Linked DNA regions of Homo sapiens. The protein of the gene in region 2 purifies or fractionates together with the protein of the main gene of each other region. This does not show direct contact. Each region holds a gene or a part of one and is shown on either strand. Other genes may lie near its edges. The genes, in order: PGD and ALDH9A1.

Region 1 (3,915 bases), about 160 Mb from region 2:
CATCAGGCAAGCCACGTCCCTTCATGGACTTCAGTTTCCTTATCTGTAAGATATGGGGTTGGATTACATGATCTCCAAGCTCTCTTCAGCTCCTGATTCCCTTTAATTTTATATCAGCAATTTTAATGTGAATTTTATTATTCAATTTTATTTTATATGAAATCAATGCTGAGGTTGAAATAAGGACTCAGGCCTTTGAGGAATCCGGGAAGCCCTCCCTCCTAGGCCTGCCAGTGCTTGGTGGCTTTGGCCACAGCAGCTCACTTGTCCTTACCTTTTCACCAGTGGTTGGCCATTGAGCTCAGTCAGAATCTGCTTAGGGTAGAAAGAGGCTGGTGCTGGGACTGACGTAAAGAGCTGAGTAATCTTCTCATTAGTGTGAAGGATTGGAAAGGGACCTCTGTTCCCTGACAGTAGATTACTGCGGTAAAAGGCCGGGTGTAGTGGCTCGTGCTTATAATCCAGTATTTTGGGAGGATCCCTTGAGCCCACGAGTTCAAGGCTGCAGTGAGCAGTGATCATACTACTGCACTCTGGCCTGGGTAACAGAGAGAGACCCTGTCTCTTAAACAGAAAAAAACAAAAAGATCACTGCAATAAAAGTGAGTGGTAGCAACTTTTTTTTTTTTTTTTTTTTTTTTTTGAGACAGTCTTGCTTTATCGTCCAGGCTGGAGTGCAGTGGCATAATCTCAGCTCACTGCAACTTCCGCCTCCTGGGTTCAAGCGATTCTCATGCCTCAGCCTCCATTGTAGCTGGGATTACAGGCATGTGCCACCATGCCTGGCTAATTTTTGTATTTTTGGTAGAGATGGGGTTTCACCATGTTGCCCAAGCTGGTCTTAAACTCCTGACTTCAAGTAATCGGCCCACCTTGGCCTCCCAAAGTGTTGGGATTATAGGCGTGAGCCACCGCACCCAGCCTGCAACTTTTTTTTAGATACACACACTTAGGACAAAGTCATGAAGAGAAGCACAGTCCTTGCCCCTACGTGTGTTGATCAAGCAGGCCCTCCTTAGTTCATGGCTGAAGTGGCAGGAAGGGTAAGGTGAAGTAAGATGTTAGCAGCCATGTTACTCTGTGGCCAGAGTGTCAAAATCAGAAGTCAGCAGGGGCAGCAATAGAAACATGGACAAGGCCAGGCGTGGTGGCTCATGCCTGGAATCCCAGCACTGTGAGAGGCTGAGGTGAGTGGATCACCTGAGGTCAGGAGTTTGAGACCAGCCTGGCCAACATGGTGAAACTCCATGTCTACAAAAATTAGCTGAGTGTGGCGGTGTGCTCCTGTAATCCCAGCTCATCAGGAGGCTGAGGCGTTAGAATTGCTTGAACCCAGGAGGCAGGTGTTGTGCTGAGCCAAGATCACACCGCTGCACTCCAGCCTGGGCGACAGAGCGAGACTCCGTTTCAAAAAAAAAAAAGAAACACGGACAATGGAGTCCTGATGTGAGCGTCAGTTATACAACTGACGGTCCAGGTGGTGACAGCCAGGAGAGAGACTGCCCAGGTCATCCAAACACCTGGCCTCCTGGGCAGGTGTGTCCCTGTCATGGAGCTGGGTGTAGATGACTGAGAGTTTGATGCCATGAACTGTTTGGCTCTCGTCACTCCCTTTGTTCCAGTTCTTGACAACTAAATAATTTTCGGATAATCTGGCTTCCCAGTTGCTTGTCTATAGGGCCAGAATGTGTTGACCGGACTAACATTTGTAACCACGAAGATCCATAGTTAAGGTTTTCATCCTACATTCATTAACGGGTATTCTGATTTTATACATCTTGCCAGCTTATAAATAAAGATCTGGTCTTTATTTATAAATATAAATATAAATATAAATATAATGATGGGGCCTTGGAGGGACTCCTTTCTGGGCTTACAAGGTTGAGACCTTGGATCTAGGGTCATTTTACTTTTCAGTAGCCATTAGGAACAACTACAATACATTTATATTTTGAAAAAAAACAAGTGATTTAATTGGCCAATATATTTTAACCTCTAGTTGCTAGAAAAGTGGTAACTTTGGGAAAAAGAGGACTTTTTTTCTTGTGGGTGGGGGCTGGGAAGGTGGGGAGTTGCTTTGAATGATGAGAAAGAGTAGAAAATACAGGCTAGAGAGCCATAAGTATTGAAAGTGAATTCAGGGACTTTGAGAAACCTTGAGAAGAATGAGTCTAGAATTAGTGTTAAATAATATTGTACTGGACTGAAGCTTGCTTTGAATTGCTATATGATTCTTGTATCAAAAATGCTGTACTCATTTTATACTTGTTATTTTTTGTGTGGAGAGGTAGCCTTGCCAGGGATGTTGGCATGAAAGCTGATGTGGACTTCTCTGATGTGTCGCCTGTTTCTCTGAAGGCCTCTTGGTGCTTGTTGTCCTGACAGGTGGGAGATGAGGGAGCAGGCCACTTCGTGAAGATGGTGCACAACGGGATAGAGTATGGGGACATGCAGCTGATCTGTGAGGCATACCACCTGATGAAAGACGTGCTGGGCATGGCGCAGGACGAGATGGCCCAGGTGAGGCCCCGGCACTGCCTCTGTGTCCGTTCTGCAGGGAGTGCTCACTTTGCCACAGACACCGAATCTTTTCTTCATTCCTATCCCCTTGGCCATTCGGGTGGCCTGCATGGACTCAGCCTAATTTGAGGGAAACTGTTAGTAATAGGCCTATACACTATGCTAGTCAGTCACTAAGCAGAAAGTCCCCACAGAGTCTGGGTGGTTATCATCACCACCATTTAGCGTAGCTTACCTGGTGTCAGGCACTGTGTCACTCCACATACCTGTCCCATTTACTCCCACAGTTGTCCCACATGGCAGATGCAGCAGAAGCTTTCTTTCCTGATCAAGTTGGGATTGGCTTTTTGATAGTTAATCTGAAAAGTCAGTCCAAGTAGGGAAGCTGAAGCATTTCCCCCAACATTTTATTATGACAATATTCAACCATGCAGCACAGAAGTTTGAGAGTTTTACAGTGAACACCTGGATACACACCTCCTCCTTTCTCCCATCCACAGGTTCCTGTACTTGCTTTAGCAATGTCTGTCCATCCCCCACCAATTTCATCTTATTTTTTGGATACATTCAAAGTAAACTGCAGGTATCCATACTTTTGTTTTCCCTAAATACTTTAGATGAATGTATCTTTATCATGAGGTAAACATAGATTTTAACTGAAAACATAGGAAAGGACTTTCATTCACCCGCCATTTTTTGGAGGGCCAAGGCCTTCTCGTTAAGTATGGTTTGCTGATGCGCTTTCTAGTCGTGTCTTACCATCTAGAATTTCTAGTTTCAGTTATTTCCAATGGGATGTGATTTACAGACTCTAGCAAGGCATACAGTATAGCTTTCCAGATTTTTTGTTGTTTTCCTCCTAGTTTTTTATTCATGTCATCCTCACTTACTTTGACTATTGTTTGTTTCACTGGATTGCTGTTAATTGTTCTTTCTAAAACATTACCTTAGTTTTCTTTCACAGAAACAGTGCTATTCTTTTTGTGTTCATTTTTTATTGGTATATATAATACTTAACGTGTTCACTCAGCAAACACACGAGTGCTTTACTATATGCCAAGCATGATTCTAAATGCTGGGGATATACTAGTGAAGAAAGCAAAGTGCCTGCCCTCCCGGAGCTGGGAAGACAGACAGAAATAAATATACAATATCAAACTAGTTAGCGATGACTGTGAGAACGAAGAGTAAACTGGGACAAGATCCGGTGATTGCAGAAGGCTTCTGAGGAGGCGACACTGCACAGAGACCTAAGTGAAGTGAGGAGCCCTTGCCTCTGAGGAGACAACACTTCTGGTGGCCAGAAATTCAGTATAACCAGGTTCAGAACAAACACAACTGACTCTGGGTTAGCATAAAACTCAACCAGCAGGAGCAGAAGTCCCCAGGCAGACG
Region 2 (3,915 bases):
TAAAATTTGAGACGTATAGTTTCTGTACCTAAATGACCATTCAGTGATCTTGGAAATCTATAGTGCTGCTCGTCACCAACTCCTGATATGTTTCAATTCTGTTTGCAATGGACAATAATAAAATAATATGTGAGTGTGGCCTCAGGTATTCTGAGTTTGGGCACTGCTGTTTCCATCTGAGGACCAAGACCTACACATCTCAGTAGCACTGAAAAAGTGAACAAACTGGTATAGAGTGCCAGAAAACTTGATCAGAATACATTATATATACTCTAAACCTGAAAACCACACTCCCTAATATTGCGCTGGTGAGCTGGCAGGTAAAGGAAAAAACATTGAGAAAGACAGCAGCCCCCAGAAGAGAAACAATCCTAAAAGAAATGTCCAAATTGCCAATTACTTTCTGTTTGTCAAAGTCTCTACTGGAGGTGCATGGAAGTTTGGTGAGAAGAATGAACCTTTGTGCAAGATCCCTCAGCTGACAGACCTGTGAGTGCCTCTGGGTGGCTGCTTTGTCTTACAGAAGGCATTTTGTTTCCTGACACTTTTTCCTGTGGCCTTTGCTCTTCGTATTCTGTATGTTAGGCTTCTGTTTCTATCAATATTTGTCATTAATAGCATTTACATTGCTCCTTCAGAATTTATTTATTTTGAGACAGGGTCTCGCTCTGTTGCCCAGGCCTGAGTGCAGTGGCACGATTATAGCTCACTGCAAGCTTGGACCCCCGGGGCTCAGGGGATCCTCCCACCTTAGCCGCCCAAGTACCTGGGGCCACAGGCGTGTGCCACCACACCTGGATAATTTTTTTTTTTTCTGAGTTTCACTCTTGTCACCCAGACTGGAGTGCAATGGCATAGTCTCGGCTCACTGCAACCCGTCTCCCGGGTTCAAGCGATTTTCCCACCTCAGCCTCCCAAGTAGCTGGGATTACAGGCGCCCGCCACCACACCCAGCTAATTTTTGTATTTTTAGTAGAGACGGGGTTTTACCATTTTGGTCAGGCTGGTCTCGAACTCCTGACCTCAGGTGATCTGCCCGCCTTGGCCTCCCAAAGTGCTAGGATTACAGGCGTGAGCCACCGCGCCCGGCCCAATTTTTATTATTTTTATTTTATTTTTTTATAGACACGGGATCTCTCTCTGTTGCCCGCAAACTCCTGGGCTCAAGCGATCCTCCAGCCTTGGTGAGAGCCACAGCGCCCAGTCTCTCTTTAAGAATTTAAAAAGCAGTTTCAGATCACAATATCATCTATCTCGTTCACAGTCCCCTTGCTTTTTACTGTCACCCTTTAAAAAGCATTATACAATTACAGAAACGGTGGTTTAGCAGTGAAGTAACCACCAAAGACTCTTGGCACTCCAATCCTCTGCCTTCTTCAGGCGATAGGATTAAGAATGGGATCCTAGGATGCTTACATGCAATGATGAACCCGAAAACACTTGCAAAGTGCTACGCAAATATTGATCACGAAGAAGGAAGTCCTCTTCCCGCCTGGAGACTGTGTGGGGTATGGCGGGGTGGTGGGGAGAATGTGGTGTCTTGCTCCACCCTCCTGGCGAGGGGAGGGCCTGGCCTGGACCGCAGAGGAATCGAGTGACTGCCCCTAAAATCTCCTAGAACCGATCCCGCGGCCCCGCCCCTCCCGCGGCCCCGCCCCTCCCGCGGCCCGTCAGCCTCTGCCGCGGAGCTGCGTCCGCCACTCATGTTTCTCCGAGCAGGCCTGGCCGCGCTCTCCCCGCTTCTTCGCAGTCTTCGGCCCTCTCCTGTCGCCGCCATGAGCACTGGCACCTTCGTCGTGTCGCAGCCGCTCAATTACCGCGGCGGGGCCCGCGTGGAGCCGGCGGACGCCTCCGGTACCGAGAAAGCTTTCGAGCCAGCAACCGGTAACTGCAACGAGCCGGGGAGGCTGGGGCGCCCTGGGGCCGGATGCGCGGATTTCCCGGCCAGCCCCCGTTTCCTGTGTTCTGCAGCGTTGACTTGAGCACAAGACAGTGACAGTGGAGAGTCTAAGGTTGTGTGTGTAGGCAACTAGCGATTCTGGGGCAACGCGAGTGCCTCCGGGCAGGGATGGGTAGGGAGGAAAAGCAAAGCTGATGAGTTGCGTGGTAGGATCGTGAGTTGTTTTACCCGGGCCAGAACAGAGTTCGCAAAGTACTGGTGGGGGAAGTCGTGCCTCTGTTAACTTCCTTTTTTGTTTGTTTTGTTTGTTTGTTTGTTTTTTGTTTGTTTTGAGACAGGGTCTCACTCTGTCGCCCAGGCTGGAGTGCAGGGGCACCATCTCAGAGCTCACTGCGCCCTCTACCTTACGGGCTCAAGTGCTTCTCCCGCCTCAGCCTCCCTGGTAGCTGGGATTACAGGCTCCCACCACCATGTCCGGCTAATTTTTGTATTTTTAGTAGAGACGGGTTTTCAGCATGTTACTCAGGCTGGTCTCGAACTCCTGAGCTTAGGTGATCCTCCCGCCTCAGCCTCCCAAAGTGCTGGGATTACAGCCGTGAGCCACCAAGCCCAGCCAACTGTTCCCCCTTTTAAAACCAGGACTGATGTATTATTGTCTTCAAATGTGTGCATAGGAGAGGAATTCTAAAAGAACGGGGCGGGGTTGTGGGGAAGATAATCATTTGTGCTGGGAATGAAGGAACGCTCACAGATAGTTTCTAATGACTACGAATGAGGACTTTGTCTCCACATTCTAATATTAAAATATTTCTGCACATTAATCAGAATTGGGAAAGGAAAAAACCCCACCTTTATTCAGTACTTTCTTCCCCAGCTTTATTGAAGTATAATTAACAAATAAAAATTGTATATACTTAAGGTGTAAAACGTGTTGTAATGTATGTATACCTTGCAAAATGGTTACCACGGTCAATCTAATTATCCATTGCTTCTGCATAGTTAATGGCTTTTTTTGGATAGTGAAATATTTAAGATCTATTCTTTTAGCAAATTTCAAGTATATGATGCAGTATTGGTAACCATAGTCACCATGGTCTACGTGAGCTCTCCACAATTTATTCATCTTGCTGAAATAAAACTTTTTAATCCAGTGCTTAATGTGTGCTAAGCACTGTGCTAGGCACTGGATTTACTCTGGGAACTCTGAAGGTCACAGAGATAAGGAAGAAGGGGCTTTTTGTTTTGGTTTTGTGTTGTGTTTATTTTGCTGGGTTTTATGGAATATATGTGGGGAGAAAAATGTAAATATTTTGTGTAAAATGTAGCCAGAGCAATAAAACTGATTTGCAGGGGACTGGAGAATTTAGTATTTGACCATCCACACTAAACCACAGAGCAGTGACTTGGCAGAGCCAGAAGGCATTATCACATCTCTTCTTTATATAGGAGGAAACAGCTTCTCTACCCCGACTTAATCCTGATACAAAAGAAAGAAAAATTGCTCTTTGCTTTAATTGCCTACAGTGTGTGTGATCCTCAGCCACCGCCTTTACCAGCTGGCTATTCAAGTTTGTAACAGAAATTGCAGATTTGTGAAATCTCCCTGGAAAGAGTCCCAGGAGTTCTTGTGAAGAGGATTTGCTGAGTTGGCAAACTTAAAGAATTCTTGTTGGTAGAGGCAGTACAGTCCTTGGGCTATGGGCCTAGAAAAACTGATTGTTTCATAATTTGCACCAGAATAGGGAGAGGGAATAAAGGTGGAATAAGAAAAGGAAATCTGGGAATTTTTGAGAAAAAAAAAATGTTCCTTTAGGGTTGCCTTATCCTGATATTACTGCTTATTAACTATATTTATCAAGTATCAAGTAGTATGATATAACCTACATAGAATATAGACAAGGGATTTACAGTCAGAGTTTATAACCCAATAGACTGATTACTTTTGACTTTCATTTTACAAGACCCCTGAGATTCTGAGATAATGTTTAGGAGTGTTGCAAAACTTAATCAGAAGT

What was found.
Region 1: the proteins of ALDH9A1 (region 2) and PGD fractionate together in Homo sapiens (co-fractionation; 2 studies listed by BioGRID). This does not show direct contact.

The regions. Positions count from the first base shown.
Region 1 is NC_000001.11:10,409,033-10,412,947, forward strand, and holds part of PGD (6-phosphogluconate dehydrogenase, decarboxylating), read left to right. Parts: intron 1-2,385; coding exon 2,386-2,520; intron 2,521-3,915. UniProt on the Homo sapiens protein: Catalyzes the oxidative decarboxylation of 6-phosphogluconate to ribulose 5-phosphate and CO(2), with concomitant reduction of NADP to NADPH.
Region 2 is NC_000001.11:165,696,347-165,700,261, reverse strand, and holds the start of ALDH9A1 (4-trimethylaminobutyraldehyde dehydrogenase isoform 1 precursor), read left to right. Parts: upstream 1-1,699; 5' UTR 1,700-1,703; coding exon 1,704-1,884; exon of another isoform or gene 1,885-2,012; intron 2,013-3,915. UniProt on the Homo sapiens protein: Converts gamma-trimethylaminobutyraldehyde into gamma-butyrobetaine with high efficiency (in vitro). Can catalyze the irreversible oxidation of a broad range of aldehydes to the corresponding acids in an NAD-dependent reaction, but with low efficiency.